Regions from separate parts of the Homo sapiens genome. Here all the other regions are linked to region 1. The links come from fine-mapping of genetic effects on gene expression. A gene starts in region 1. Each other region holds a variant in brackets. All regions are shown on one strand. Distances are between the middles of the regions. Region 1 holds the start of HLX (H2.0 like homeobox). Region 2 overlaps MTARC1 (mitochondrial amidoxime reducing component 1). Region 3 has its middle 120 kb from the start of HLX-AS1.

Evidence for each region. PIP is the estimated chance that this variant, and not a neighbour inherited with it, causes the effect.
Region 2: its variant is fine-mapped to the expression of HLX in cerebellar hemisphere (GTEx, PIP 0.90).
Region 3: its variant is fine-mapped to the expression of HLX in whole blood (INTERVAL, PIP 0.94).

The regions. Positions count from the first base shown.
Region 1 is chr1:220,873,284-220,883,995 of GRCh38, reverse strand. It overlaps HLX (H2.0 like homeobox), which reads right to left and starts at 4,553. Exons shown (of 4, transcript NM_021958.4): 1 at 3,547-4,553; 2 at 2,623-2,802; 3 at 1,648-1,832. The coding sequence starts at 4,138. It overlaps HLX-AS1 (HLX antisense RNA 1), which reads left to right and starts at 3,856. Exons shown (of 3, transcript NR_046901.1): 1 at 3,856-4,147. RefSeq lists an enhancer at 3,220-3,828 and a silencer at 4,947-4,996.
Region 2 is chr1:220,807,735-220,818,446 of GRCh38, reverse strand. It overlaps MTARC1 (mitochondrial amidoxime reducing component 1), which reads right to left. Exons shown (of 7, transcript NM_022746.4): 7 at 1-5,155. The coding sequence ends at 5,029. Among named protein-coding and RNA genes, the nearest start is that of LINC01352, 16 kb to the left of the region's middle. RefSeq lists an enhancer at 4,531-5,730. The variant G/C (reference allele first, on the strand shown) is at 5,273.
Region 3 is chr1:220,996,169-221,006,880 of GRCh38, reverse strand. No RefSeq gene overlaps it. Among named protein-coding and RNA genes, the nearest start is that of HLX-AS1, 120 kb to the right of the region's middle. The variant C/T (reference allele first, on the strand shown) is at 6,090.

The DNA.
Region 1 (10,712 bases):
CTGGCCTAGGGAACCCACTAAGACCGTTTTCAAAATGCAACCCTCAGGCCCCAGGACTAAAATGACCTGAGTGACTGTTGGAAAGGCAGATTCCTGCACCCGACCCCCAACATACTCTCTCTCTACTCTAAATCCATGTAATTTTTTTATGCCAGGACCCCCATGAGAATCTGATTAAAGTTATGGACTCCTAGCCCAGAAAAATACACATATGCCCAAGATATTGCTTACAATGTCAAGGGTTTGGTGTGCCAGTGTTAAGAATTCCTGCTCTAAGTTGGCCCTCTCCTCTACTGCCACTACCCAAAGCAATACTTTTTTCAAAAAAGGAAACATGGGAAGCAGAAAGGGAAAGGGGTTTTAAACTGTTAATCACAGTAGGGTGGGGGCATTGTTGGGCTTTCAGTAAGACAGCATTTCTTTGGTGTGTTTGTACGCAAGAGCTGATAAGGACCTTGCCCCTGTTAAGGATAAACAAATTCTCCTGGGGGCTCAGAAAACAATGGAATTAAATGTGTGCAAAATTAAGGAAGGGGATAGAGATGGGGCAGAGAATCTATACAGATATATACGATCCCCTGGGGGACCCAACGCATTCACACAAGTTCCAGCTTCCCTTTTAAAAATAACATCCACAGCTGGTGGAAAACGGCTGGGCTCCTCGTGTGTGTGTGTGTGTGTGTGTGTGTGTGTGTGTGTGTGTGTGTGTGTACTGGGGAGAAGAGTTGTGTAATGGAGGTCAGAAAGAAACAGAGACAGCAATTTGGGGACCAAGGAGCTAAGAAAAAGAAGCCTGCCTCTGGCTTCTGACCTGCTGGGGAAAATCAGCACCCCAGAGCCAGAGCCAGTGCTATGGGGTGCACAAGAGTGACTCTTCCACAGTCAAAGCTCGGGTGGTGGGGGGTGGGGAAGCCCAGTTCTTAAATTTAAGAAAAAGAATAAAATTATTTCAGCCACAATACATTTCCTATTGTCTTGAAAAAATTCAAATAGGCAGAACCTGCTGAAATGCTCTTGGGTATTCTAAGAGAATCATTTTTCTTTCTTTCTTTCCCTCACCTCTCCCCTTCCTTCAGATTTTCTTCAGAGCCTAAGCCTTGTAATGTGTGGCCACTCCAAGCAGACTCCCTGCCCTCCTGGAGCTAACTAATTCCGTTTGAAATTATATTTTCACTTCCTCACAACTGGGGATTTCACAATCCAGCAGAAGCAGCAGGAGGAGGAGGAAGGAGGGAGGGTGAGAGGGAAAAAAACCCAACAACAATCTCTTGCCTTTGGGTTTTTATCTTTTCTGAAATAAACTGCCTCCTACAGCGAATTGCACTACAGTTGAGTGTATCAGTGTTATTTCCAGCGGCCCTTTTGCTTTCTCCGTGGTTCTTTAGCCTGTTGGCCAAAATAAACATGCAGTGCTTGTTGACACACATCTTGGGGATGAGCTCTTCTCTCGGTCCTTCTCCCTCACCCCATCTCCACCCTCCTCTTCTCCTGCCTCAAGTTGCGTAGTCCACAAAGCCTCTTGAAAGTCAAGATCTTGCGTTTGCACCGCAGGAGGCCAGTCGGCCGGGATGGAGGGGACCTACCAGACTAGGCCGTGCGCTGCTGCCCGCCCGAGGGCGCTGTGCGCTGGAGCCAGAACTGCCTTACCTGTGCGTCCGTGAGGCCCAGCATCGCCGCCAGCTGCTTTCGGTCCGGCTTGGTCACGTACTTCTGAATCTCAAACCTTTTCTCCAGGCCTTTCCTCTGCAGGTTGGAGAACACAGCGCGCGACCATGAACGCTTCCTTTTGTACGTCTGCGGCATGGTGTCCTTCGTGAGCACAGCATAGGGACCTGCCGCAGAACGGGAGCCAGAGGGAAGAAAGACAAGAGGGCCGTTCAGTGTCCAGTCCTTGACCTGCCAGCCTGGGGGTCCCCGTAAGGCTTGAAACTGTTTCGTGTTAACTGTCGATTCCACCCTCATTCAGAAAGCCCTTCGCACATACACCGAATGGCCCCTCTAAGGAGGAATTTTACACGACAGTCGGAAGACCTAAAGCGAGCGTGGAGTGGAGAAGCCTGGCGGCTTGTCCTTTAATTCCAAGAGAAAAACATAAACCTCATGCGTGGCCATCAGGCCTACGAAGAGTAGACAAAAATGTCCCTTGGGCCTGAATGATGACAGCCCTGAATTGAATTATCTCGTGTGTGTGTGTGTGTGTGTGTGTGTGTGTGTGTGTGTGTGTGTGTGTGTTTATTCCCGCATGTGTCCAGGCACCCAGACATAAACTCGCCAAGCACAAGTGTTTGAGGTCATCCCAAAATGTGTATATGCTAATAAGCAACATTGATGCTGCATTTTTCAAGCCCTCTGGGGCGAAAAGACTTCGAGAAAGCCCCCCACCCCACCGTCCACGCACACACTTTCTGGGATCTCCAGGCGCCTCTACCCCTTTTCAAGGGGAACCATCCGAAGCGAGCGCTAGCTCGCTGAGAAATCTTTCGGTTTCTCTCTCCTGACTCCGTAGCCTCCCGCCCCAATTGTGAGATTGCGACACCGTGGCAGCCCTGGAGGCGTCAGTCCTGAGATTTCTGACTGTTAGTCGGCTCGCCCGTTAGGCAGTACTCTGGAGTTTTTCCGTACCTGGAAACGTGTCTTGGAACTGATGCTGAACTGAATTTCTTGGGTTCGAGTTTAAGGGACTCAGGATTGCAGAAGCCTCGTTAATGGGATCTAGAGATGCGAAGAACTGGCCGGCCGAGGGCTGCAGGCCTGAGAGGTGCACCCCGGCGGGCCGCCCACCGGTTAGCAGGGAAGTGAGATCTGGGGACAAGGGAAAAGGATAGCAGGTTACATCTCGGGCACACTCACACTCTCCGCTGATTTGTTCCTCCCCTTCCCCTTGCCCTGGATTCACTTTTATTGAGCGAAGTCAAGAGAGAACCCGTCTAGGCGCTGAAACCTCTCTCTCCCAACAGTTGCCAAGGAGCGACGCACGAAAAGTTCCTGTGTGTCCCTCACGTCCATATGCATGTATATAGTAAGTAAAGGCTTTACATAAATCGGCTTACGGCCTCACTTTCACGTGTCTTCCAAGAACGCCACAGACGCAAAACCTCCGCCCCAAGGTGGCCCCACTCTGCCCGCTCATCTAGGCGGTTTTGTTTATTATTTACATTTCCTGGGTGAAATTTTTACTAGAAATCAGATAAGTGCGAAAGTGTTTCCCAAAAATGCTTTAGCTGTCAGAAAATATAATTCTGTCTCTAGATACATTATTAAAGAGATCAAAGTCATGTTAGCAGATAATTACACCAACCACTTTTATAAATATTGATTCTAAGACGTGTTTTTAAAGAATCCCTGGAGTCATTTTTTGTTTGTTTTACATAGAACAGGTGAGTTTTAGACCTAATGTTTTGTAGTTTTCTTACAATTCGTTTTCTTCTCTCCCGTTTTACCGATTTGTCCTTAATTGTAAAAACACTCAAAGGCACCCCAAGCCAGCCCGGGGTCCGGGGAGTGGGTCAGTGGTCAGAGGCCTGCAGCCTCCCGCCCAAGACCTACCTCTCAGCGTGTTGCCTTCTTTGACTTTTGGGTCAAATTCTGCAGATAAAATGCGGTCAATTCCAAATTTGAGGTCTTTGCTGGAGGGGGCCGGGGCAGAGCCACTGTGGTGGGGGTTCGGAACCACTCGCGTCCCCGAGGCCGGGGGCTGCAGGGCGCCAGCCCGGGGCGGAGGCGGAGGCTGTTGCTGCTGCGGCTGTTGCTGCTGCTGTTGTTGTTGCGGGTGATGGTGGTGGTAGGCGGCTGAGAGCGGAGACAGCCGCTGCGGGAAGCCAGCCGGGACTTCGGAGGGCGCCACCACTGGGGTGGGTCGAAGCGGGGATCTGGCCGCCGCTTGGAAAGAGGCGTGCGGGTGAACCGAGCCCAAGTGCGCGGTGAGGGCGGCGGCCGAGGCCCCTGCCAGGCCCTCCGGGGCCGCCCCCAGATCCCCCACGCCGGCGTGCAGAATGTCTGCGATGCAGAAGGAGGGCTTTTTGACGGCGGCGGGGTCCAAGGGGAAGGAGCAGCCGCCTGGGCCGGCCGAGGAGCAGTAAGCGGCCGACCAGAGGCTGAAGTTGGAGGCGTAGAAGGGAGCCAGCCCGGCTGCGAACATCCTGCCGGGGTGAGCCGCGCGGCTGCCGCAGTCCAGCCGGACTGGGTGGGTGGGCGCGCGGGGAGGGGCGCGCGAGTCCCGGAGAAGGCGGCGGCAGCCGAGGACGATCCGCTTTCGCTTCTCCGCCCGCACTGAGGAAGAGAGGCCGGGAGCCCTAGCGCCACCGAGGGAGGAGGCGAGGGCCGGATCTCGGCCGGTCACCGCCTCGCTCCCTGGCCTCGCTTTAAAGGCGGCGCGGCGCCCGCACTCCTCGCGGGCTGGATGAGAGCGAGGGGCGCTGGGGCCGCAGGGCGGGCGGGGGAGCCAGGGAGACGGGAGCCGGACACCGCAAGAAAACCCAAATAGCTAAGCCCTAAGAGCTAAATTTAAAACAACAACAATAATAGTCCGTTAGTTAGGGGGGGGGAAAAGTAATAGAAAAAAAAAAAAACTCGTCTCTAAAAACTCCCAAAGTTTTGGCAGGAGCTTTCGAGTCAGGCCCGGGGTAGGACCTCGATCCGAGCGCTCATTGGTCATCCTCGTGACCAATGGGAGCGGGGAGTGGAGGGGAATTAGGAACAAGGGGGCCTGGCCGGACCCTAGCCACGCCCCGGCCACGCCAAAGTTTTTGCTGCGGCCGCGTGGGCTTAGTAGCGCACATCGCAGTGCTTCTTGCTACTCTGCGTAGGGGCCAGGCAGCCGCTCCGGAGGGCTCTGACTCTCTTCTAACTTCTGCAGCTCCGAACCGCCACGGGGCAAGGAGGGTTGATCACAGGAGCTTTCCTGAAGCGCTTGTCACCCGGGGCGAGTTGGGGGCGTGGGGAAGGGACGGTAATCTCACTCTTTAGGGCTCTGCAAAGCCCGCCTCCCGGTGGAGAGCGGAGCGCGCTTTGGCCCCTTTGCTTCCCTTCTCTTGACCTCATTCTGCTTTTATTCCAGGAGTCCGTGTCCTCGGCAAAGCCCCTCATCTTTCCTGGGCCCTTGCCCAAATGTTGCCGCCCTGAGTCCCGGCCCAACTCAGCACCGCGTCCGCCTCGTGCCTCCCAGGAGATCCTCCGGGAAGCGAGGAGGAGGGGCGGCCGCAAATTGGTTTTATTCTGAGCTGTCACACAGTGACAAATTGAACGAGTGACTTTTCAAACAAAATAAGACGGATGGCTCCAAACGTCTCTCTTAGACGCAGCCAAACCTTTCCCCGGAGCCTCAGAGGCTACAAAACAGGCTGCCTCCCGAAACCCGGGAGAGCGGCACGCGCTTCCATCCTTTGCAGGAGGTTGTAGGAAATGTTAGCCTCACCCCTCCACCACATCTCCGGATCACGTGGGGTTCGTTGTTTTGCAAGTGCCCACAAGAGCAGATTTCCGTGGGGTTCAATACTGCTTTCAATTCTGTGACAGCTTCCCCAGGAACCCCTTGGGCCTGGTTGCAGGAGGAGCTGCGTGGTGGTCAACGTCTTCCATTCGTGCCTTGGGTCTTTAGAACGCAGGGTAGTGGTGGTGGAGGTTTTGTGCAACATCGACATATCTATTTTAAGAATTTCTTCTCTTTAAATTATAGTCAGAATGAATTTCCCCACCCCTCTCCCAAACAAACCACAGGCCACCCAGATGAGCTGTTCTTGCACATTTTCAGGAAGAAAATAAAATAATACGAATAATGAAACCACGAAAACTTTTGTTTTCGATTGCCCTAATAAGCATCTCCTAACAGGGATTCTGTGACATTTTTATTTCCCTTCAGCACGAAGGCTCCTCACCAAATAAACCCAGAAAAGCAAGTGAACTTGCCATGCCTATCTCGAGTTCAGGGTTTGGGCTTATAAAATTAATTTCTGGTGTTTTCTCTAGCCCCTTGATGCAGATGCTATCCTTTTAAGCTTTTGACTTTCTCCTGGAAAATTATCAATCACTTCTGATCAGCCAGCACTAAGATCTCTCCCTCTCCCTCTCTCTCTCCCTCCTCCCGCCCTCCAGCTCTCCCGCTCTCGCTCTCCATCTCTCTTTTACTGAAAGGTTTTCTTCCCCTGCTCCACGCAACCAGGAGAGAGGTGCTATTTCCAGAGATAGATGGGTGTGTTTGGCTGAAGGTAGGGGTACCTGGGGCGAGAGACGTATTAAGACCAGTTTTTCTGTGTCAAGGTGAAGGCAAAGGAGCGACAAGTACAACATGGGCAATTGAGGCGCTGGCTGAGGGTTCTGGTGAGCCTTCGGTGGGAGTGTGCGTAGCGGAGGCCGTGAGCCCTCTGCTTTCTAGTGCCACTTCCAGTTTGATTGCGTTTCTAATTTGACTGCAAACATTTAGACCTCAGCCTAAGCCCAAACTCACGGTTGTGAAAGAGGTGCATTTACTCCTTACCCGAGGCAGCGCCGCGCGCCCTCACCCTCTCTCTTAAGAAATAAGACTCCCCTATCAGCTTTCACCCTTTCCAAGGTTTGCGACGCTCCGGGGTGGGCACGGGATACAGACCCGGGGGAATGCGAGTCCTCAGGGTTCCCTAGGTGCCCACAACTCGCATCTGCCGAGATTCAAGGCCCGGAGCGCTGGGCAGATGCGGCGAAAGCGAGGCCCCGAGGCCCGCCGACTCCTCGCGGCGCCGCGAGCCTCCCTTTCTCCGCCAGGCCCGCGGCTGGAGTGCAAGTTGCAACTTCGCCTGCGCGCCCCTTGCTCTCCCAGGCCTCAGCTTCCTCGCAACCGCGTCGGCGCCATCCAAGGCCTTACTCCCAGCTCCCGGAGGCAAACGCGAAATACAAGTCTTTGGAGCGACCCCCGCCGCCCCCTCTACCCCTTCCCCAGGCCCAAGCCTGGCCCCTGCAGGCCCCTCGCCGAGTTCTGAGCCCGCAGACTCCCGCCCTCCTTACTCCCCACTCTTCAGAACCAAGAAAGCAGCAGGAAACCCTGGGCTCGCCGGAGTTCAGGTCATCTCCTGTTTTTTGATGGGCTCAAACTCGGGACTAAATGAGCGGATGTGCCTGCGAGATTGGTCTCAAAATAGAAGCGGCCTTAGTATTTTAGGATACTGCAGAAATCCTTATTTCTTCCGGAGAAAAACTCTATAATGACTCCTAGCACTTCCCCTTTCAATATTTGTGCAACTTTATCTCCACCGGCAAGTTGCTCGGGTGACGCAAATCCGCCCTTATGTATTACAACTACCAAAATAAATGCACGGAAATCAATTCCCTTCTAGCAATGAAAATATAAATATACAGCTGCGACTTTCCCCTTTAATCTTTGCTTTCCGAGAGGCTCCGGGCTGTGGCGAAATGAACTGGCCCAGAGCTACTGAGCCGGGCAGGGAGGTCCTGGGGGTAGAGGCGAGGGCTCCCCAGGGGCTGGTAGCCATGGGGGTTGAGAATTTAACAGGAAAGAAAAGGGCCTGGCTAAACCGAATTAACTTGAGCTTGGTCTACGCAGCGGAGACCCTAACTGTGGCCTCTTTTCTTTGGAAAATATCGCATTGGCTGGGGTTTCTGATCATGCTGACTGCTGTTTTTAATGCTTTCAACTCATCCCTTCACTTTTCCTAGTTAAACACAGCCAAAGACGATTTCACCATATTGGGAATGGATAAGATCAGAGAAGGTTCGTTTTATAATTTAACAATATAGCTTATGGGGATTTAGGGTTTAAAAGGGTCCTGAATCAGGGGCTTATGCAATGACTGAGGCAAGAGATGGGTTTCACCATCCTTTGGTTCTACCTGTCTTTGGAGCCTCCATATTTAAATCATCAGTGCAGACTTTTGTCCCAAAACCAGAGTCACAGATCCACACTGAGCACAGGTCAATTATAGTGAATGCTGGGCCTTGTATATTACAGGACCATAACTCTTCAAGGACTTGAACTGGCTATATCTGCTATCTGTGTTGCTTTTTCTTGTGCATTCTGGGTAAAATAATGTGCAAGGCAGTTGCTCTGTGGACTTCGGAACCCCTCTCCTCTTAATTTCAAATATTCTTGCAAACATGGTACCTACTGGCTTCAAGAAAAGAGATGTAAATAATTAAATATTTACAATCAGAAAGAAAAAGAAACACAGCTTATCCAGCTACTTGAGAATTCAAGAAATTTGCAGCAACGTAGGAATCTGTGTATATTGTGCCTGTCTTTCTGCCAGCTGGAGACTTATGGATCACTGGTCCCAGCAGTCATACTTAGTGGTGGATATGGGAGTTCTGTTCTTTGTGGGTGCCAGATACTAGAGATTAGGACTCTAATGATCCCCCATAGACACACCCCCTACCCACACACGCATACTTTGGCCTATTCTAAGTAGGACACAACTCTCTTTCCTTGGAGACCTTAGAGTTATTCCAGAATTTCTGAGTTTTTGAGAAGAATTGGACTTTGCTATGGGGTGGGAAAAGCAAATAATGCAATAGGGCTACAAACATCCATAGCTATTTGATTTATTCTTTTTCCTTTTCTCCATTTCCCAGATGTGGCAGATTTGCAGGTGGCCAGCTCTCTATTTGGCTGTGGCCCTGCCCTTGAACTTTATCCATAGGTCTTGCTCCAAAGTTTCAGACAGCCTTTTGGCTCTGATTCCATTTGCCCTTTCCTCTCATAGGGCTTCTCACATATTTCCCTTCCTCACTACTAAGATATACCACTTTACATATATGTACCTCTCTCTCTCTCTCACACACACACACACACACACACACACACTCTCTCTCTCTCTCTCTCTCTCTCTGGGAATCTTAGAAATGTGGAGGGGAGGGGAGGCAGGCAGTTTGGGATTTGCTCCTGTTTCAAAGAGCTGCTTCTCTGCCTCTCCAAGTCATCCTCTCTACATCCAGCCAAGAAAGACCCCAAATCTCATAAAACCTATGGCAGAACCCATTTCAACATGGCACATTATAACAGACTCATATACATTTGCAATGAAATCATAAGAGTAAAATATGAGAGACTATCTGTAGCATATATGAGCTTACATACTTCATTGCACGGGCTTCTATTTAGTAGCTGTAAACAGTGCTCTCCCACTTCCCATACATTAGCCACTCACCTTGGATTTGTTGCCTGAATTATTGAATCTGAATGGCTGGTTGTTAAGGTAGGAGAAGGAGGAGTAGGTGAAAAACATATATCCAAAACAGACAGGGATGAAAGGCATTCCCAAAGCAGTATTTCTCTAAACAAACAAATAAACCTTCTTCCCTGTGAGACAGGTTTTCAAGTTAGAGCACAGGTTCTAGGGCCAGAAGAGGGACTCAGGCCCAGACTAAAAAACAGTCATGGGAAGGGATCTTCTGAAGGGAGAGGATCCTGGAGCCAATGAGAGGGATTTTGCAGATAAAGCCAATGGGTTGTTGTCCCCATCTCAGTGGTCCCAATCTGCCTACCAGCACCCGCCAGAACTGGGACAGCCCTGGATTTAATGACGGAGTCCCCCCAGCCCTGTCCCAGCCCACCAGGCCCGGGCATCTCCCTCCCTGGAGGAGCCCACCTAGTACTGAAAGTTGGTTCTCTGCTGACACCTGCTGGACCATCTCTACATTGTTTTATGGCAGTAACCATCCTGTGCCAGCAACATTGTTATGATGAAAGTTGACTCTTCCTTTTGCAAAAATGCAGGTTTCTAAAACTGGCTTTGACTAGCAGCTGTTTCCTTCCATATTGCAACAATATGGGAAGATCTTGTATTGTGTGCTTAAAATCACTAGACCGGGCAAGGGAAGCAGTCATGGTTCAGGAATAATACTGTGTACATTTTACAGATCTCAAGGTCAATTCACATTTATTATCTCACTTTTTTAAAATAACCAACTGTAGGATGCCGACGAGGGATTATTATCCCATTTGACTTTAGGAAGTTGATCCTCAGAAAGGTTAAGTGGCTTGCCCAAGGTGACGTAGTTGGGAAATGGTGTTGGAGGGAACAGAGGCTAGGTTTTCTGGTTCATCAACCGGTATTATACCATCCAGCCAATTTCTTCAGGGGAAATGGTTTATTCAGAGGAAAAACTCTCTGCCCTTAATCAGAATGTGTATTGATTTCAAACAAGGAGCTGTAGAAAAGAAGTATGTCTAACTCAGACACACTTCCCTGTCCTGAAATTTCTTTCTCTCCTCAGCATTAAATGTGGAGACTTCCTTGCCTCCCAGTATCATGCCACTTGTTAAATTCTAGTTTGGGCATCTACCCAAATGAGGCCCAAATTTGATTTGGGTGGATGCTCTAAATCAGAATTCAACAAGTAGCATGATACTGTGTCCAATTCACATCTGCAAATGAAAATAAATCCCTCAGTTTATATTCAGTTTTGTCTTTGCACTAATAAAAGTAAATCATTTTGACTATTTAAAATATCCAACCAACTAGATGCAGTTTGCCTAGGAAGGCATTTATCTAAACCTTCTCACCCACCCTCCTTGCCCTCCATCATAACATCCCAGTCACCTTTTTCCGTTGCAGCTGGAAAGCAGTCTATTTTGGTTGCCATCAAAGCCCTGACTTCAATCTCTATGACCCTCTGGATCTGAGAATGCCTCTCAGCTTCCAATGCTTCATCGCTCTCTCTAGTATTACCCTCATCTCCCCACCCTACACTTTTTCCCACAGCAGCCATGTGCAATGGAGATTTCC
Region 2 (10,712 bases), 66 kb after region 1:
GAATTTGACCTGCCTATCAAAAATGGCCTTGGAAGAGGCTGAATGGGAAGTCACTTCTCAGTCCTTTTTGTTACTTTACACAACCTACAGCCTGTCCAGGAAGAATAATAATGTAATTAAGGCAACTCTTCTCTCTGAGCCAGGCCACAGAGCATGGGAGCAGGTGCCCCACCACCCAATTCCTCAGCTGTGTTTGGAGGAAGAGCAGAGTTATAGTCAGAGCTGTGGCCCAAGCCTCTTCCTGTGAAGAGAGTGTGGTCAGAGCAGACCAAGGGATGCCTCAGGGACTTTTTTACTATCCCAATTCCAAGAACATCTGTGGTACCGAGCCAGATTCTTCCTCTTGCTTGAAATTGGGTAACTTTAGATATCATCATAACTCATTCATCCATTCAGAGAAAGTGGTTGAAGCAAACAATCTCTGTTCTTGCAGACAGCAAAGCACAGTAGTGCTTTGTGCAGACATAGATAGAGTCAGGGCCATAGGACTTCTGAGGTAATTCTGCTTTGTAGGGTGGAAGGCAACACTAGTTGAGAGGACTTGCAACAGAAAGGAAAAGCTAGGGCCGGGCGTGGTGGCTCACAACTGTAATCCCAGCACTTTGGGAGGCCGAGGCGGGCAGATCACGAGATCAAGAGTTCGAGACCATCCTGAACAACATGGTGAAACCCCGTCTCTACTAAAAATACAAAAATTAGCTGGGTGTGGTGGTGTGCACCTGTAGTCCCAGTGAGAGGTGAAGCCAGCTGGACTTCCTGGGTCTAGTGGGGACTTGGAGAACTTTTCTTTCTAGCTAGAGGATTATAAATGCACCAGTCAGTGTTCTGTGTCTAGCTAAAGGATTGTAAATGCACCAATCAGCACTGTAAAAACTCACCAATCGGCACTCTGTGTCTAGCTAAAGGATTGTAAATGCACCAATCAGCACTCTGTAAAATGGACCAATCAGCACTCTGTAAAATGGAGCAATCAGCAGGACATGGGCAGGGACAAATAAGGGAATAAAAGGTGGCCACCCCAGCCAGCAGCAGCAGCCCATTTGGGTCCCCTTCCGAAGCTTTGTTCTTTCGCTCTCCACAATAAATCTTGCTACTGCTCACTTTGGGTCCGTGCCACCTTTAAGAGCTGTAACACTCACTGCGAAGGTCTGTGGCTTCATTCTTGAAGTCAGCGAGACCAAGAACCCACCAGAAGGAACCAACTCCAGACACACCAGCTACTCGGGAGGCTGAGGCAGAAGAATTGCTTGAACCTGGGAGGCAGAGGCTGCAGTGAGCTGAGATCTCACCACTGCACTCCAGCCTGGCAACAGAGTGAGACACTGTCTCAAAAAAAAGAAGAAAAAAAAAAAAGAAAGGAGAAGCTAGCAGAAGAGAAACAGGGCACCCCTCCCTGGTGCATGAAGCATCCTGGAGCACTTTCATCACAGGTGGTTTTGTAACTTACATCACAGGTATTGCTGTAAGGGCAAGGTTAGAGAGAGTTTGGTTTCCCTTCCCTCACCCTGATCCACCCTATCCATCCAAAAATGCATGTTTGGAAAATGATCCCGAAGAAAGAGAGTGCTTCTCCCTAAGGCCCACAACAGGAGAGCTGGTCTAAGACACTTCTCCACACCTCCTTTAACCTATCAAGTCCCAGTTCCATCCTTTTACTCCAGCAAGAGGGGCAAGGGAGAGGACAAGGGGAAGTGTCCCAAGATAGGTCTCCTTCACTTGGCGGGAACTTTTAACTTCTTCAGTCTTCCCATGAGTGCACCCCTCCTGCTAACTGGGATTCCTTGGCTCACTGGCATTCTGCCTAGAGATCAGAGGATCATTTCTCAAAAGACAGTCAAAAACAGACCTTTGGGAAGGGCAGCATTAAACACAGATGTCTTCATGAAGGCCTCTCCAGAGCCTTTTGCCTTTGAAGAGAAGTGAGGCACGCAGGACTTTCCAAACTTACTGGTCCATGGAATTGTTTTTAGAAGCATCCCGAAAGGCAAACTTTCAGAATTCCATGGACCAATAAAACACGGGAAATGCAGTGTTAGGGTGTGGTAGCAACACTCCGATTATACCCACAATCAAGGTCTGGTCTGAGAGCCACTCTGTCATTTTCAAGGAACTTTAATGTATCTGTTCTCCACCATCATGGGTTGCTTTAATTTGATACACTCTTGGAATGCTGGGAGCACTTGCCTGGAATTTCAGCCTGCCATCACTGTTGGTGACAGCCTCATAAATGGTTTCCCGAAGTCCCATTTGGCTAGTCTAATTTACCCAACCTCCCCATGCACTCTTACCAAACTGGCAGACCCTCACAAGCTCATCTCCTCACCATGCCCCGTTATCAGTAAAGGGAGAAGGAGAGGAGGAGTATTTCTCCCTATAGGACAACGGCCTGAATTCCAACAGCCTCCCCTTCCCCAATTTCTTTCTGCCTTCGTGTGTATAAGTTGCTGCCCTCGTCTTTCGGTTGGAAGTTTCTAACATTTTCTGCAGGAGAGTCACAAAAGCAAGCCTTTAGGCAGCCCCTCCGGAGCCTGGCCCACATTGTCCTTTTCAAGACCTCCAGCTCTGAGTTTGTGACTCCCCACTGTGGCTGCAGCATAAGTTGCCACACAGAGGAGATGCCCACCGAGGGTGGATATTTTGGCCTGATCTCAAACATCTGTCATTTGCTGTTGTAAGATCTGAAAGTCTGGGATGGCCTACATTCCTGATTCTATATTTCAAGTGGAATAGTGTGCAAATGCTCAGTATCCAAAATAAATGGGATATCAGCTTTGTCTCTGGCATTAACCAACTCATTAAATATAAAATAAACACAAGTAAATGGCCTTTAAATCTCACTGACAGAAAGCTTGGCAACTACTCTGAGATTCTAGAGGTCACTGGAACTTCTCTCTTCAAACAGGAATCTTCCTCACACTGTGAGGCACAGAAGGACAGGTCTGCCCAGTGAGGAGGGTTTCTGGGTGCTCCCTTCCACGTGGGTGCTGCCCTGCAGAGCTAGCTACCCCGAGAGCCTGTCCATGGAGAATGATGGTTACTGCCCGGACGGGGCACAGAGAAGTGGCTGTTAGTTCTTACAAGTGGTTAGAAATTCAGGACTAAGGCTTTCACTTGCCACTAATTATAAATACCTAGGAAGAGCCACCAAACCTTGGGTTTCTGATTGCTCCCTACCTATTGGCTATTCCCAGAGAGCCCATATTCACATGGTTTCCTAAATCCTGTGTACACTCACTCTCCCACGGGTCCCCCGGTCCCATTAGTAATGCTACTTGCTGAACACTTCGCTTTGTCTCAATCTATCTGTAGTTTCAACATCAACTGGACTTGTTGGGGAAGGTGATGGCCCAGGTTCTCTGGAAAATTGATGTAATTATTCACCTCATGCCAAGCATGCAGAAAACAAACTGTAATAATTCACCAACCATAAAACAAGCACATGCACCTCTTTGCTCAGAACTTTACTTCAGGGCTCAGCTAGATTTCAGCGATTACTGACCTCTTTTATAAAATCAAAGTGAAAAATGTGCAGCTTTTGGTAAAAAGCATGTTGACTTGATAGTCCTTCAAACATGGGTGCTTGCCTGGGAGGCTGTGGGTGAGGAGGTCCATTATGCAGAAGACCCAGCTGTGGTCAGGTGTCAGAATTACTGGCTTTGCCCATTCACCTCAGTCAGCTTTCTTTTTTTTTCCTGTTTCTTTTTTAGAGATAGGGTCTCACTCTATCACTCAGGCTGGAGTGTAGTGGTGCAATCATAACTCACTGCAGCCTCAATCTCCCGCTCCTGGGCTCAACCAATCCTTCTACCTCATCCTCCCGAGTAGCCATAGCCAGGACTGCAGGCACACACCACCACACCGAGTGCATTTTAAAAACATTTTGTAGCGACAGGATCCCATTATATTTTCTGGGCTGGTCTCAAACTCCTGGGCTCAAGCCATTCTCCCACCTTGGCCTCCCAAAGTGCTGGAATTACAGGCATGAGCCCCTGTGCCCAGCCTCAGTCAGCTTTCACAGTCTAACTTTGTGCCAAGAAGTTAGTAAGATCTGAAACTAGTCAAAGTAGCTTCCATTTATTCACAGTTTTAAAAACATTTTTCAAGTTTAGTCAACTTCCCAATATAATCAAAGGACAAAATGGCAATAAAAAATATACTTCATCAGATCTTAGAGTTATACAATCAGTTAAAAAATAGATATTGGGTTTTAAACAACTGACATATGCTTTCCTTTTCCCCCTTTAAAGGTTTTCAGTAGTCTATCTGAAATCACTGAATCACTTTTCTTCTCCTCCACAGAATTCAGAACTTTTTCACCCGGAACTGGAGAAGGAGCACTCCGTCATTAGCTGAGGGGAATGGCAAGGATCCAGGGGTCCTCCATGACTACACAACCATCCTCCTGAGCACCTTTAGGAAATCCAATGCTGTCTGAGAAGCAGCAGGGCCAGATCCAGATCTATGGAAAATTAATATCTGCAGTGCTTCCTGAAGGTCACCTCAGTCTTTATGCCATTTCAAAAGCTAGCCCGGGGCTTGAGAAGAAAAGGGAAGTGGCATTCCAGCCATATTTGGGGTGCAATTTAATTTTCATTGCGTACCTCATGAACAGGGGCAATAACACATTCTAGGATATTCTTCCAGCCCACCCACTCTTCCTCTTTCTCTTCTTCTCTTTCTCTAACGAGTGGTAGTGACAGGATGCAAGTCTGCGCTCTTGGTAGATAAACGGAGAAGCAGGAGAAAGAACTATTCCATAATCAGTTAAACGGGGAGTTTTCAGAATCCTGTCTTGTCATTTAAGTGACTTACTGAAGTCCTACTAAGTTATTGAGACTATATTTCTTTACTTTTTGCACTGGGACATTGAAGCATTGAGACACCAGAAGTCCAAAAGACGAAAAATGTGAAAATCACAAATTTAAAGAAAATGTAGAGGTCTCAGTTCTGAAACACCATGCTTCAAGTGTTGTCATTTTTGAGAACATTTTTAAAAGGCATCTAATATTCCAGGACATACGGTTCCCATTACTGGCCCAGCAGGTACACAGGGTCTCCCACTTTGATGGTCCCTGGGTTTTCCAGCACAAAATACTGCCCAAAGAGTGGTGATTTTCCATATAACTTTCGTTCTGAAGGGTCACACTGGCGATAACTGCAATAGGAAAAGATCATGATGAGTCACAGCCAAGCGGATGCAAGAGCTCAACCAGCACGTGGCTTCCATCCCACACAGGGCCTCCGCACGCACAGCTCGAGAGGGCACCATCCC[G/C]TCAAAGCTCAACAGAACAGCGCCTCCTGGAGTGGGGCAGTGAACAGCCTGCCCAGCAAACAACGACAGAAGCATAAGCAATGGCCACATCCCCACATCTTTTCTCTACCTTCATGTTCCCCCTTTCGGCATTAAGACGTTAGATACTTGGCCAGGTGTGGTGGCTCATGCCTGTAATCCCAGCACTTTGGGAGGCCGAGGCTGGCAGATCACAACCAGGATGGAGATCAAGACCATCCTGACTAACACGGTGAAACCTCATCTCTACTAAAAATACAAAAAATTAGCCAGGAGTGGTGGCAGGTGCCTGTAGTCCCAGCTACTCGGGAGGCTGAGGTGGGAGAATGGCATCAACTTGGGAGGCGGAGCTTGCAGTGAGCGGAGATTGTGCCACTGCGCTCCAGCCTGGGCAATGGAGCAAGACTCCGTCTCAAAAAAAAAAAAAATTAGATACTCAATGTGTCTAGACATACTTTATCATCTTCCTTTGCCCTAGGCATCTTTCCTCCTGTCTCCTCCATGTCTGTCACCTGAACCACCATCCTAGCCGTCACTTGGGCTGGGAGCCCATCCTTTACACCACTGTCCTCTCTTCCCACAGCCTGTCCGCAGCTGCCGAGTTCCAAGGTTCTTCCTGTACAACATCATTTGACTTGGCTTGCTTTTCCTCATTCCGACTGTCACGATCTTGCTTCCAGCATGCTCAGACTATCATAATAACTTCTTAACCAACCTCTTTTCCTCATTCTCTACCTGTTTTCAATTCATTGTTGACACTGCACTATATCACTGTTTTAATTGTGTTCTGGTCTTATCATTCCTAGGCTCACAAACCTTCCGTGGCTCTCCAGTGCCTAAAGAATAACATTCCAACTATTCAGCCTGGTATGTAGGGCTCTACCTGGCCCCAGCCTGCTTTTTCAGACCTGTTGCCATCTGCTCCTTACCTGTGCCTCTGCAGCTCTCTGCTGGATTTCACCTTGCTTTGCATTGTACTGACTCGGTAAGTCCTCTGTGATTCCTGTGGGATGCTCCTCCTCCAGGTCCCCATGCTTTAGAATTGTACCTGCCTCAAGGCCCAAATCAAACACCACATCTCCCAGGAAGGAAGCCCAGGTTCCCCCAGCTACGAGTAATTCCCCCTCCTCAATTCTCTTTGCCCCTCCAATACTCACACATCTTGTCCTGTAATGTCAGGGCACAAGTTTGTCTGTTCTACAAGGCAGAGTCCCTGGAGAACAGGAACTGTGATTAATGCCCTTGTACTGCTCACGCCCAATGCCGGGCCTCCTACATCACCTGTGACCCACCATTGTTTGCTGGCTGGATTAGTATGCTCATGAGTAAAACCGTCTGTCAGAGGCAGTATAAATATGAATATTTTTGTCCAGCAGAAAATTAAAGAAGACGCAGGGAGAGGGTACATGAGCAGATGTGTGGGACTCACATGGCAAGATTCCCCCACCTTCCCCACTGGGAAGAAGTTAACCTTCAGTTTTTTATTTAATCTAACCCTAATTTTACATCATTTTTATATTTAAAACATTTTAGATAAATCATTCATTTTATTCTGCCTTGCTTTAAAAAAAAGTGAAAAAGTGACTGCAACAACTTGGTTCTAATGTTGTTCTTCAAATCAGAAATTGTTAAGGAGAAAACAGAGAGTCAAATCTAGAACCACCTTCTGGAGACCTGCAGCTCCTTCCCCAGACTGTAAACATCCTGTAGGCAGCACTGTGTCCACTTTGTTCTCTGTTGCATTCTCATGGCCTGGAACAGTGCCTCACACATACACTGTAACCACTCAAAAATAATGTTGGTTGAACAATGAATGAACAAATGAATGGATGAATGAAAATAACAAGCTGCTGATGCAGGCTTCCCTGCCTTGCCAAGAGTATTTCCTCTCTCTGTAATCAGGTTTCTGCAATGCCCTTGGACCTGACAAACCAGGCATCTCTCCTAGCCTGGCTCTCCTCTTTCAGCATGCAACATTCATGACATTCTGAGATCTATCTGTCAGAGGGTGACCTCTTCAGGAACAGGGGACACATCAGCTGCTTGTATGGGTGTTTCCGTTGCTGCCAAGCTCTGCAGTCTAAGAGTCCAGACTCTCATTATCTTGGGGAGAAATTGAGAGTTGGAGTTCTGCGCATCACACATGGATAGTTTATAAGGAACTTTACACATGTTCTCTTTTTTAATCCTTACAACCTGCTTATGTGGGAATTTGCCTTTTCTTCATTTTACAGTTAAGTCTCAGGGGGAGTAACAGACTTGCCTGAGATCACAGATCTAAAGGATCCAGCTGGGGCCAGAGCCCAGGCCTGGCTGACTTCAGAGTCTAGTGGACTCTTCCCACCCAGGATGTAACCCTGGTCGTCGACATCCTCCTGAGTACACCCACAGGCCTGAGAAGAACCGAGGGGTCTCACAATTTAGTCACCTACACCAATTTCTAGCCACTTACATTTTTCACCTATCCCTTCCTGCCAACCAAGCACAGACACACTCACTCCCCCACCAGGTAATGAGGAGCAGAGGACCGTAAAGAGCGGCTGCCCCTCTCGGCACAGCCTCCCTAAACTGCACAGGTCGGGGTGAGGGAGCTGCTTTGTGAAAGTGCAGGTGTGGTCACCGGCTCACAGGTGGCGGTCCACTCCGCTGTCTAGGAGTAGAAGCGGGAAGAGCTATGGGAGTGGAAAAGGGGTTCTCGGTGGGCCGGCCTGCCAGGGCTTTCCTACAGCTGCCTGGTTTTGCTGCGGGCTCTCACCGCCTCCTGCACCACCTCCTCTTGCTACTGCTGCGGAAGCCCGCCTCCAGGCTGTGGGAAGACTCAACGAGGTCACTAGCGGCGCCTTGTGGCACTAAGAGGTATTGCAAGCAGTCTATGAATTCGTGCGCACACTAAGTTCAACACTCTGAAACAGTATTCTTTCATACATGGGTCTTCTACGATTTTTTAAATATGTGACTTTTCATATATGTATTCCTGTTGGTATTAATAAATTAAAACTCATTTAAAATCTTCCTTAGTGCACTTTCTCCTTAAATGAACATGAAACATAACTATTCTAATGAGCAGGAAGCCCAAGACACTTTATTTAGCTTAAAACCGAGGTCTCTATTATTTACAAGGTGCAATGTAAATGGAAACAGTTTGTTACCGTTAAAGTGCTGTGCACCACAGAGGGCTGATCCTTGTTTACCCTGCCTGGTTTACGCATTCACTGGTCAACGTCCAGGCCATGACTCCAGGCAGAGTATCTGGTCACTGCCCGATCCCACCACTGGCGTTCATGGGACCATAAGTCACCAGCGGCAGAAGCCATTCCTGAGGCCTCATGACTGCCTATCTCTATGGCCAGGTTAAGAATTAAACAGCATTGTTAATCCCAATACTTTGGGAAGCCAAGGCAGACACGTCACCTGAGGTCAGGACTTTGAGACCAGACTGGTCAACATGGTGAAACCCTGTCTCTACTAAAAATACAAAAATTAGCCAGGCGTAGAGGCGCATGCCTGTAATCCCAGCTACTTGGGAGACTGAGGCATGAGGATTGCTTGAACCCAGGAGGCGGAGGTTGCAGAGAGCTGAGATTGCTCCACTGTGCTCCAGCCTGGGTGACAGAGTAAGACTCTGTCTCAATAAATAAATAAATTAAATTAAATTAAATTAAATTGAAGAATTAGACGGCATCGTGAACGTTCCTGGGAGAGGTGCCACACTGAACCTCCAGAGGCTGGCCGCTGGGCAAGTTCGTGTTAGGTTTCATTTAAAGCAGCCTCTGAGTATGGGAAGAAGTGTGGTCAGGCTTCTCCTCCTCTCAGAAGGTGTCAAGTTTATAAACAGTGACTCTCAATGACCGCAGCTTACATGGTCACTGTGTACAGTATTTTATCATCTATAAAAATCCTATATCTTGCCTTATTCCAGTCTACCAGAAGAGGTATTACAAGTCCAGTTTATACCAATAAAGAAACTGTGACTTGAAGAGCCTAAGCGACTTGCCAATGTCACACAATTAGGAGGTGACAGAGCCAGACTAGGGTGGAGAGTCTGCCTCCTCCCATGGAGTTACCACTGCTATATATTCTGTGTTTAGCTCAGCAGAGCACAGCCTGACACAAGTGGCTGCTGGCAAATGTCATTACTGTCACAGTATTCGTGCATCCAGCAAAACGTTTTTTTTTTTGAGTACCCATGCAGTAACTGTGCTATATTCTTTCCATTAGGGGCAAAATGTCATGGAAGCAACAACGGCAGACTCCAGCCATTCCTTCAACCATGGGGATCAGTGTGTACGTCACTTTCCCTTAAGAAAGAAAAGAAAAATTCCATTTTCATATCTTCCTGTTAGCAGACATGCCTCCACTGTGCCTCCCGCTGTGAGCATTTTACAGACAAAGGCTTCCCTATGCCTCTGTATTTCTTTTCCTCCCACTGCTGTACCACCGCGGGCTCTGCCTGTGGGTGACTAACATCAGGAGGCAGGGCTGGTCAGGCACAGAGGTCTCCCAGCTGAGCGCTGGCATTCCAGAAGCAACCCCAGCCATGGGCACCATGAGTGCCCAGAGGCAGAAAGTGGTGTAGCTCTGAGCAACCTGCCCAATAGCAGAGAGGCTGTGGACACCACTGTTTGCTTCCCTTCCCATGATTTATGGGATGTGGCCAGGCCTTTCTCTTCCCGATTTATGACCACCTGTCTTGGGAAGAACATAAATTACACATCCATGGCAATTTAAATCTCAGTAAGAGATAGGAGAAGACACCTAGGCTGGCCGCACTGTCTCCTGGGGTATTAGAAGCAATTAGGGCCAGATTGTTGGGCTTCACAAAGCCTGCGGAAGATCAGGGGGGTGTGCTGGCTCCTTGCGCCCCCCGCCTTCCCACCCTCACTCTGTGTTTAGGGTCAATTATCCTCCTTCTATAAACACAGGCTCCCAATGGAGGAAGGGGGGCACTGAAGATGCAGAGAACAAGCCCAAACACGTGAAGTGCTTTGCGGAGGCTGTTTCTGCAAGAGCATAAACCTTCTAAATCCAGAGGGAAGGATGCCCCACACCGAGCAACACACAGGGGGAAGAGAAAGAACAAGATGGACAAAAAAGGATGACAGCCAATTCCCCAAACCACTTGGCTGATTTACACAGAATCATCTATTTCTGTCCTGCCTCCTTTATTTTATAGGGAAGAACACTCAGGGTCTGAGTGCGGGCAGGGGTAGGAGCACAGCAGTCGGTGTGCTGCACATCCAGGTCTCCTGACTCCCAGCCCGGGATCTTCCCGCTGGCCCACCCTGCTTTCTGCCCCTAGTAGCTCCTCTGTGGCCATGGAAAACAGGAAGACTGAATTCTGGTTTGTTCTGATGGTGAGTGAGCGCATTTCAAAGAATAGCTATAACCCTGGTCCTCTCATCAATGTTCTGTCACATATAGT
Region 3 (10,712 bases), 120 kb before region 1:
ACATTATTGGAGAAACTTAATAAAGTGCATAGTTTAGCAAATAGTACTATATCAGTGTTAATCTTTTAGTTTTAATAAATGTACGAAGGTTATGAAAGATGTTAACATCGGGAGAAGCTTGATGAAGGGCATACAAACACCCACAATATTATATTTAACTCTTATGTTTTTTTCAAAATAAAACACACTTCTTGATGTCTAATATAATATGATTAACCTCCATTGTGGTTGCTAATTTTCTCTCTTAAGATCAAGGTTATAAGAGATTTCCCACAGCACCACTATGGAAATGATGTGGAACAAAAAAGAGAACAGAAGGGAAATGCCTTGGAGAAAGAGGAGATAGAAAACCAAAGAAATGTTAAATAATGTGGAAAACAAAAGAAAAAAATGGAAGGAGTGGTACCACCTCCCACCTTGAATCCCAACAGGCCACTGGGACCCCAGTCTGGCATTTCAATAGTCACTTGCCATCATTCACACTCCTCTCTCATCACCATATTAGTTAGGGCACAAGCTAAACTCTGTAATATAAGCCCTCACAAATAGAAGAGAACTTCAAAAAGCTCATGGAAAAATGGAATTTAAAGATAAAAATAAAAAATAAAATCAATTCCTCAACATAAGCTCCATCAAGTTCAATACACTTTTGTAAGTGATACCAGCCATACAGTCTATCCCTAAAGAACTGAGAGGATCAGGCACAATGGCTCATGCCTGTAATCCCACAATTTGGAAGGCGAAGATGGGAAGACAGCTTGAGGCCAAGAGTTCAAGAACAGCCTGGGCAACACAGTGAGACCCCATCTCTGCAAAAATAAAAAAAGAATTCGCCAGCCATGGTGGTACAAGCCTGTAGTCCCAGCTACTTGGGAGGCTGAGGCAGGAGGATCACTTGAGCCCAGGAGTTCAAGGCTGTACTTCAGCCTGAGCAACAGAGTGAGGCCCTGTCTCAAACAAACAAACAAAACGCTGAGGGTCCTAGGAATTTAACCATGTCATTGCATCTTTTGCATGTTGTTAACTGAGGAAAAATAGGTGCCCTTTAAAGATTTTTGAAGATTAGGAACAAAAAGAAGTCAGAAGGAGCCAAATCAGAACTGTGAGGTGGATACCTAATGATTTGCCACTGAAACTCTTATAGAATTGCCCTTTTTGATGAGAGTAATGAGCAGGAGCATTGTCATCATGGACAATTGGTTTCTAGCGAAGCTTTCCCAGAAGTTTTTCTGCTAAAGTGGTAGCTAACTTTCTCAAAACACTCTCATAACAAGCAGATATTATGTTCTTTGGCCCTCCAGAAAGTCAACAAACAAAATTCCTTGACATCCCAAAAAACCTTTGCCATGACTTTACTCTCAACTGGTCCACTTCTGCTGTGACTGGACCACTTTCACCTCTTGGTAACCATTGCTTTGATTGTGCTTTGTCTTCAGGACCATACTGATAAAGCTGCGTTTCATCTTCTGTTACAATTCCTCAAAGAAACGCTTCAGGATCTTGATCCCACTTGTTTAAAATTTCTGTCAAATCTCTTCTCTGGTCTGCAGTTGATCTGGGCACAAGAGTTTTGATAGCCATTGAGTGGAAAGTTTGCTCAACTTTAATTTTTTAGTCAGAATTGTGTAATCTGAACCAATTGAGATGTCTATGGTGTTGGCTATTGTTTCTGCTGTTAATCCTCAGTCCTCTTCAATTAGGGCACGAATAAGATTAAATTTTTCCTCACAAACTGATGTGGATGGTCTGCCACTGTGGGTTTTATCTTCAACATCATCTCATCCCTTCTTAAAATGAGTTGTCCATTTATAAAATCCCGGTTTCTTTGGGGACTCTTTCCCCATAAATTTTTTGTAAAACACCAATGGTTTTGCCATTTGTCCACCCAAGCTTCATCATAAATTTGTTGTTTGTTCTTGCTTCGATTTTAGCAGAATTTATGTTGCCCTGATTGGGGCTCTTTTCAAACAGATGTCTTATCTTTTGTGCCTCAAACTAGATCGGGTTCAGACAAACAAGTTAGTACAAGTTTATTTTGGTGCAAAAAAAGATGAAACTCATGTGTAATTTTTCATACTATGCATTTTCCATGAACTTTTTGAAGACCCCTCATTCAAAGATTAAATAAGATTATAGTTTATTTTTCTCTTATTTCACAATTCAGAAGTAGATACTCCAGATCTTATAGGATGATTCTGCCATTCTCTATGTAGTTTCTGTCGCTGGGGACAAGCCCTGGGAAAAGAAGAAGAGGCAGGGCAGCTAAGACTCCTTCCTTGGTTTGCTTTTATTCTGTTCACATCCCATTGGCCAGAAATAAGGTACATGGCCTGATTAATGTTGCAAGGGAGGCTGGGAATATAGTCTCTAATAACTGGGCAAAAGTAGACCTGTTGAGAGTAAAAGTCATAGAAACTCTAATAACCAGCTAATGCTCATCAGTTCTCCTGTTAAAGAAGAGAAGAATCTGGTTCTGGTAGAAAAAGAGCAGTCTGTGCCACTAGTTCTAACGCAGAATCCTTTCAACAAATTGGACCATGCACTGCTGCAGAATTTTCTATTTAAGGTGACGACAAAAGTACAGGCAGTCTTCAATTTGACAGAATAAAATTAAATTTTATAGAAGACAATATGTGATATCATGGGGCATGGGATAAGGGGAACACTATGACATTAGTCAAATTTATCTAAAGAGAACATTAGAACAACCAAAGGTAGAATCTTAGTGAGGCAGATTTTTTGGGAAAATGGCCACAATTCTTCATGCCTTTCCATACCTTTACCTCTGTGCAATGGGACTTTGCCTTTCTTCCCACCAAGAGAGTCTCTTTCTCTACCCTTTGAACCTGGACTGCCATTGTGACTTGCTTTGTTTCCATACAATGCAGAAGTGACTTTGTACAAGGTCCAAGCCTAGGCCCGAAGAAGGGGGCCTCGTCATGAGGGGAATTTTCTGTCTGTTTAAGGGAATGACAAAAGTCCTGAGGGGTGGGAAGAGAATCAGAGACAGAAAGAGGGGGAAAAGTTGCAAAAGAGGGCACCCTAAAGGGAGGGTCCTGCCAGGGTCAAGGCTGGGGGTTAGAAAAGCACAAGGAAGAATAGATGATCAAGTGGGAAAAGTCTCTAATTATTTTGTAAGAAACACACCTACTTCTCAGCGGGATCACGTGCTCATCCTCTGTTCTAAATCAGAAATCAGAAAATACAGGCCTGGACGAAATTCCCCTTGGAATTTTTGGGGGGCAAGTCACAAGGGCATTGCTCATTCCTCTTCTTTCCCTTAGAATGCTCTCACTGTGTGAATAAGGTCAGGCTAGCCTCCTGGAGGTTAGACACCATATGGGGTCAAGACAAGCCGTGCCAGCTAAAACTATCCTAAACCAGCCAGGCTCCAGCTGATTTGGTAGCAGGCCACAGATAGAGGAGGAGCCCAGCTGAGATCAGCTGATGTACTGACTATTAGCTAAATAAGTGGCCATCATTTAAAGCCACTAAGTTTAGGGGTTGCTTGTTATGCAGCAATAGCCACCTGGTAAAACTGGTGGAGCTCAATTCCTCTGTTTTTTGTTTGTTTGTTTGTTTGTTTTGAGTCAGGGTCTTATTCTGTTGCCTAGGCTGGAGTATAGTGGTGTGATCCCGGCTCACTGCAAGCTTCACCTCCCCAGGCTCAGGTGATCCTCCTACCTCAGCCTCCCACGTAGCTGGAACCACAGGTGTGCACCACCATGCCCAGCTAATGTTTGTATTTTTTGCAGATACGGGGTTTTATTATATTGCCCAGGCTTGTCTCCAACTCCTGGACTTAAGAGATCCTCCTGCGTTGGCCTCCAAAAGTGCTGGGATTACAGGTGTAAGCCACTGCACCTGGCCTGGAGCTCAATTTTTAAGGGATGAGCTGATGAAAATGAACTAGAAGAACCGCAAAAGAAAGGCAGAGAGCTGCAAGAGAACCAGCAAGCAATGCGAATCACAGAGACCAGAGAAGTTTCAAGATGAAGGAAGTGGCCCTCAAGCAAGATGAAGCCTAAGAGAGTGGTAGCTTTTTACAACAGGAATACTAATTTGAAACACCACATAGGTAATGAACACACAAATAGAAACTATTATGTACTTCCCATTAATAGTGGAAAATTCAGTTTCTTCTTTTGGTTAAACACATACCGCCTACACCACTGCATACCTTTCAGACAGGAAAATTGAATTTATAACACATTCAGAACATGAGTGACTTCCTTTAATCTTAATGTTCTCCTAAAAGTCTTATCTCCAAACACTGATAATACATTGAGGGTTAAGGTTTTCACCTATCAATTTTAGGTGGACACATTTCAGTTCATAGAGATGATGATGATGATGATGAAGATAGATAGATAGATAGATAGATAGATAGATAGATAGATAGATAGATAATAAATGGATGGATAGATAAATGTATAGGTAGGTAGATAGATAGATAGATATAAATGGATGGATAGATAAATAAATGGTAGGTAGGTAGGTAGATAATAGATAGGTAGATGGGTAGATAGGTAGGTAGATAGATAGAAGATAAGTGGATGGATAGATAAATGTATAGGTAGGCAGATACATAGATAGATAGATAGATAGATAGATAGATAGATAGATAGATAGAAGATAAATGGATGGATAGATAAATGTATAGGTAGGCAGATAGATAGATAGATAGATAGATAGATAGATAGATAGATATAAATGGATGGATAGATAAATGGATAGGTAGGTAGGTAGATAGATAATAGATAGGTAGATGGCTAGATAGGTAGATAGATAGATAGATAGATAGAAGATAAGTGGATGGATAGATAAATGTATAGGTAGGCAGATAGATAGATATAAATGGATGGATAGATAGATAAATGGATAGGTAGGTAGGTAGATAGATAATAGGTAGATAGGCAGATAGATATAGATAGATAGATAGATAGATACATACATACATACATACATACCCAAAACTCACATGACCCTAGGGCCTTCTGATTGTGCATAAGTCCAAGAAGCTGTTGGTCCCACCTGTGACCAAGTTGCAGGCTGACTTAATTAGCCCATTGTCTCCATAACTTCCAAGACTCCTTCCTTCTGTTCATTAGTTTTGTGGCCCTGTTGCCCTGACCCACTCCCCTTCTCTTTTCCTTATTTACTTCCTTTCTCCTCTGTTCCCCTAAATTATTATCTTCATATTTCTGAGCCCCACACAGTCCTCTCCTCCTTTCTTGGCCCACAATTTATTCCTCAGCTTTTGTGTAAAAGATATTTGGAGAACCAGATCTTTCCTGCTCCACATCACTAAGGAGTGGCCTGAGCTTGCAATAGTCCCAAAGCCTAACCATCACCCTCCAGGCCTCCAGAGGTGAAGTGACAGAGTCAGGGAAGCTGGGCTGCTACTTGGATGAGTGAACTTCTCTCCGGCCGCAGTCTATCCAGGCATAATGTGTATATTTGTGTATGTGTATGTGTGTGTATGTGTGTGCATGTGTGTGTATGTGTGTGTCTGTGTGTGCATGTGTGTGTCTGTGTGTGCATGTGTGTGCCTGTGTGTGCCTGTGGTGAGGAAGATCACGGCCTTTGGAGTCAACTCTGGACTTCACTTACAGCCTTACCACTTAGTAGCCGTGTGGTCTGGGACTTAACCTCTCAATGCTTTGTTCCATTCTGTACAATCACATTAATAATAATCTTTACTTTGAATGATTGATATGAGCATTAAAGGGTGTTAAATTTGCTAGAGCATCAGTTTTATGTCAGAGTCACAGATACTGCAAAGAAACCATCTAACAGTGCCCAGCACATAGTGGGGGCCTCAATAAATGCTGGTTATTATTGTGATCCCTGTCTGTTAATCCCCATAGCCTTGCCCCACTGGCCTGGCTAGACTCTTTGTCACCTTCTGTTGGCTCTTCCTATGCCTGGTACCTGCCAGTTTACCACCTTAAATCTACCTATTGGATTTAATTTCCTCAAATCATCTCCCTCCCAGTCCAGCGGGCAAAGATTGGTTCATGCCCTGGCCTCTTCTGGTCAGACCTATCCTGCTAGAGTTAATCAGGCCAGGTCTGCCTGTGTCTTAA[C/T]GAAACCATTTGTTCCTCAAAATGACTCTCTCAATAAATGGAGTAAAAACACAATGATGATTGGGAGAAAAGGGGAAATGCGTAAGAGGACATGGCACGGTGACAAGCACATTCAAGGCCATAAATATGTGGCAATTGCTTTTCTCATCTAGTTCTCTTATTTTGAAACTTTCCTGGAAGGGACCTGGTATTATTAGCCATTATGATGAGGCAGATGCTGTTTATTTGCCCAGTCACATAAGGATCATGTAGGACTGACAACCAGTGAGGAAATTATGTCATTCTTCGGGACAGGGGAAGGAAGAGGGAGGAAGGGGCTTTGAATGAGGACAGATGGGGCAGGGTTGGGGTGTACTTCCAACACCTATAAGAGATTTATTGTGCTTTTAACAGTCTACACTTACACTTAATTGAAGACTACTTAACCAATTATTTCATGAGCTGTCTGGTAACACTTAAATCCTACCTTTCTAATCCCTGACTGGCTACATAGCCACAAAATCAGATTACATCGTGATTAGGAAAAAATTTACACATGCATAAGCCATGTCACAACAGATCACTGTTCTTGCCAAATATTTCCTACATAGCTTGTAAACCTCTTAGGTATTTGCTACTGCACAGGTTGCTGACAGGATACAAAGAAAATACAAGTTCTTGGCCTCTGTATATTGGGCTTCCCTACACAGGGTGAGTCCCCGCCCAGCCTCTGTACCAGGCCCCATGCTGGCTGACCACACCTCTGCTCATCACACTTGGGGCTGCAGCCATGCCTGTGCTGATCTGGGACTTGGCACTCAAATCTGGAGAGTCTCAATCCTGGGATCAACCTGCAAATGTCAACCCACAATGTGAGTCTCTTCTTTATGCATCCTCTTAAGGATTTAGTGAGCCTCAGGAGCATGTTGAGGCCAAGGCTTCAAACCTGATGCCATCTGTACTTTCTCTGGGGAGGTGGTCTCTCTCTGCCTCATCTCTGAGAGATAATCCACGGCCCCCAACCCTTGTTAAATTTCCCTGCACAATTTCAGGTGACCATCCTTGCCAGATCCTGATTGGGCCTGGAGAATTGGCTAGTCTCATTTTGTTTCTGTATCTTAGTCAACTTGGGCTACCATAACAAAAGGCCATAGGCTGGGTCTCTTAAAAAACAGAAATTTACTTCTCACAGTTCTACAAGCTGTCTAAGATCAAGATACCAGCAGGGTTGGCATCTGATGAGGGCACTGCAGCTGCCTTCTCACCATGTCCTCCCATGGCCTTACCTCAGTGTGTGCATTCCAAGAAAGAGAGAGCTCTCTCCCTCTCTCTTCCTCTTGTTGTATGGCAGATCTATCTGATCAGGACTCCAATCCTACCTGATTAGGACTCTACCTTTATGACCTCATTTAATCTTATTTCTCTCCCATAAGCCCTACCTCCAAATGCAGTCACTTTGCAGGGTTAGAATTTCAATATATTAATTTTTGAGGACACACTTCAGTCCATAGAAAGACTATATATATAGATAGATCGATAATAGATAGATAGATAGATAGATAGATAGATAGATAGATAGATAGATAGATAGATAGATGAGAGATCTGCATTCATATCACATTTAGGCTTAAAAATGTTTACTGTCGGCTGGGCATGGTGGCTCATGCCTGTAATCCCAGCACTTTGGGAGGCCAAGGCAGGCAAATCACAAAGTCAAGAGATCGAGACCATCCTGGCCAATATGGTAAAACCCCGTCTCTACTAAAAATACAAAAATTAGCTGGGTGTGGTGGCGCGTGCCTGTAGTCCCAGCTACTCGGGAGGCTGAGGCAGGAGAATCGCTTGAACCCTGGAGGCAGAGGTTGCAGTGAGCCGAGATTGCACCACTGCACTCCAGCCTGGTGACAGAGCTAGACTCCATCTCAAAACAAAACGAAAAAAAAAATGTTTACTGTCTTCTCTCCTTGCCTTCGGGATAGAGCCCACACTGCTTAGCCTGGCACCCATGGCCCTCTGCCATGGCTCCTACACCAGATCCCTGTGTTAAGCCCATGTAGTCTCCATTCTCCCATCAGGAACATCCTTCTCAGCTAGAACCAAGGTGATAATGGTTCCCTTCCCACCACTGGGGCCCTTCCAGTGGTTCTGTTTACAATCCGGAAACTATTTCCTCCCTGGTTACTGACCATAGATGACTTCACACATTCATTTATTATTTATTCACTCATTCAATGTGTAGGCACCACTAAAGCCTGATCTGGGCCCTGTTTTATGAGCTGGCCACTGTCATATGCTCACATTCAGGGATGTGGATTTTGCTCTTTAAACCGTAACAGTACAGCCACATCACAATACAATAGCCACTGCCTCTGTCTAGTAATAAAGGCAGTGACACAGCAAAAGAGGACTGTTTAGATACCTCATAGCCCCCAAAGATGAGCTCTCCAGGCATGGCGCGTGTGTCTATCCCCTCTCAGCCAGCCTAAAAAGTTCACTCTCATAATGTATGGCCCCTTCCTTTCCATGCTGTGCAAGAACGTCTTCTTGCCCACCAGCCTCACAAACTAAACCCTAATCGATGTGAGAAGATGAGCTGGGAGATCCCATTCCTTGGAGCTCCTAGTCACTTTGTCACAACCTCGGGAGGCAAAACTGATTATTGTGGAAGGTGGGACAAGGTTACCAACCTGCCAGACACATCAAAACCTGGATGGTTTGAAAACACAGACCCTTGCTAAACAGGAAAGTCATAACAACCTCCACAAGGGAACTCTCCAGAGGCAGGCTGGGAGGGGAGGAGCACCTGCTGCAGCCTGCGGTTGGTGCATGAGAAATTCCTGAGCACTTAATTTCATTTCTGTTTCATGATATACTGCAACGCTTATTGGGAAATTAGGTGAAGCTAAACTATGGTTTACTTTTAGCTGACAAGCACTAAGATCTGAAAGGTAAAACATTTTGGCTCTGAATTCTGGGGAAACAAATTACACCTTACCCTACATTTTCAGGGCCTGTATGCTTGGTTTGGTGGGGGGTGGGGGGCGGGGGGCGGGGGTACTTGTGAAGGAAAGCAGCCAGTAGAAAGAAAAGACAGAGATGCCAGTGAGAAAAGAAACTTTGCCAAACTCCAAATACACATTGGATCAGGCCAGAACCCACCCGACCCCTGCTGTCACCACCACCACCACCACCATCAAGATAAAGAGTGGATCTGTCCTTCCCATGTCTTCCACACTTTTGCTTGCCTCCTTGTGGTTTCAAGGGGGCCCTTGATTCTAATTTTCCCTTAGATTTCACATATAACAATGTTGGACAGGGGATCTCTAATGATTGATGCGGGCAGTTGCTAGTGCTTTAAACCTTTTCACATATTTAATCCCATCTCATACTCACCATAGTCCTGTGAGCTAGGTATTAACCCTCTCCCACCCCCAATTTTCCAGGTGAAAAAACTTAGGCTCAAATATCCATTGACTTGCCAAGTGTTTTCCACTAGCAGGTAACAGTTAAGAGAGTTTCAAACTCAGGACTTCGCCATGGAGAATTCTGGCTGAGCAGCTATGCCAGTCTCACCAAGTGTGGTGATCCTGTAGGCCTTCTTTCTTTTGTTTTTGTTTTTGTTTCTCAAGACACATACACATACATACACAGACACACAGAGTATGTCTCCATTTATACAACATGTGGAAAAGGCAAAAGTATACAGACAGAAAATAAGCTTGTGATTGTCAAAGGCTGGGGTGGGGAGAGGGATGAACTAAAATGTAATAGAAGAAAATGTAGGGAAGTGAGGGAACTGTTCTCTGTCTTCATTGTGGTGTTGACTGCATGATTAGACGTAATCGTCAAAACTTTTAGAATTCTTACGATAGTTTACTGAGAATGATGGTTTCCAATTTCATCCATGTCCCTACAAAGGACATGAACTCATCATTTTTTATGGCTGCATAGTATTCCATGGTGTATATGTGCCACATTTTCTTAATCCAGTCTATCATTGTTGGACATTTGGGTTGGTTCCAAGTCTTTGCTATTGTGAATAATGCCGCAATAAACATACGTGTGCATGTGTCTTTATAGCAGCATGATTTATAGTCCTTTGGGTATATACCCAGTAATGGGATGGCTGGGTCAAATGGTATTTCTAGTTCTAGATCCCTGAGGAATCGCCACACTGACTTCCACAATGGTTGAACTAGTTGACAGTCCCACCAACAGTGTAAAAGTGTTCCTATTTCTCCACATCCTCTCCAGCACCTGTTGTTTCCTGACTTTTTAATGATTGCCATTCTAACTGGTGTGAGATGATATCTCATAGTGGTTTTGATTTGCATTTCTCTGATGGCCAGTGATGATGAGCATTTTTTCATGTGTTTTTTGGCTGCATAAATGTCTTCTTTTGAGAAGTGTCTGTTCATGTCCTTCGCCCACTTTTTGATGGGGTTGTTTGTTTTTTTCTTGTAAATTTGTTTGAGTTCATTGTAGATTCTGGATATTAGCCCTTTGTCAGATGAGTAGGTTGCGAAAATTTTCTCCCATGTTGTAGGTTGCCTGTTCACTCTGATGGTAGTTTCTTTTGCTGTGCAGAAGCTCTTTAGTTTAATTAGATCCCATTTGTCAATTTTGGCTTTTGTTGCCATTGCT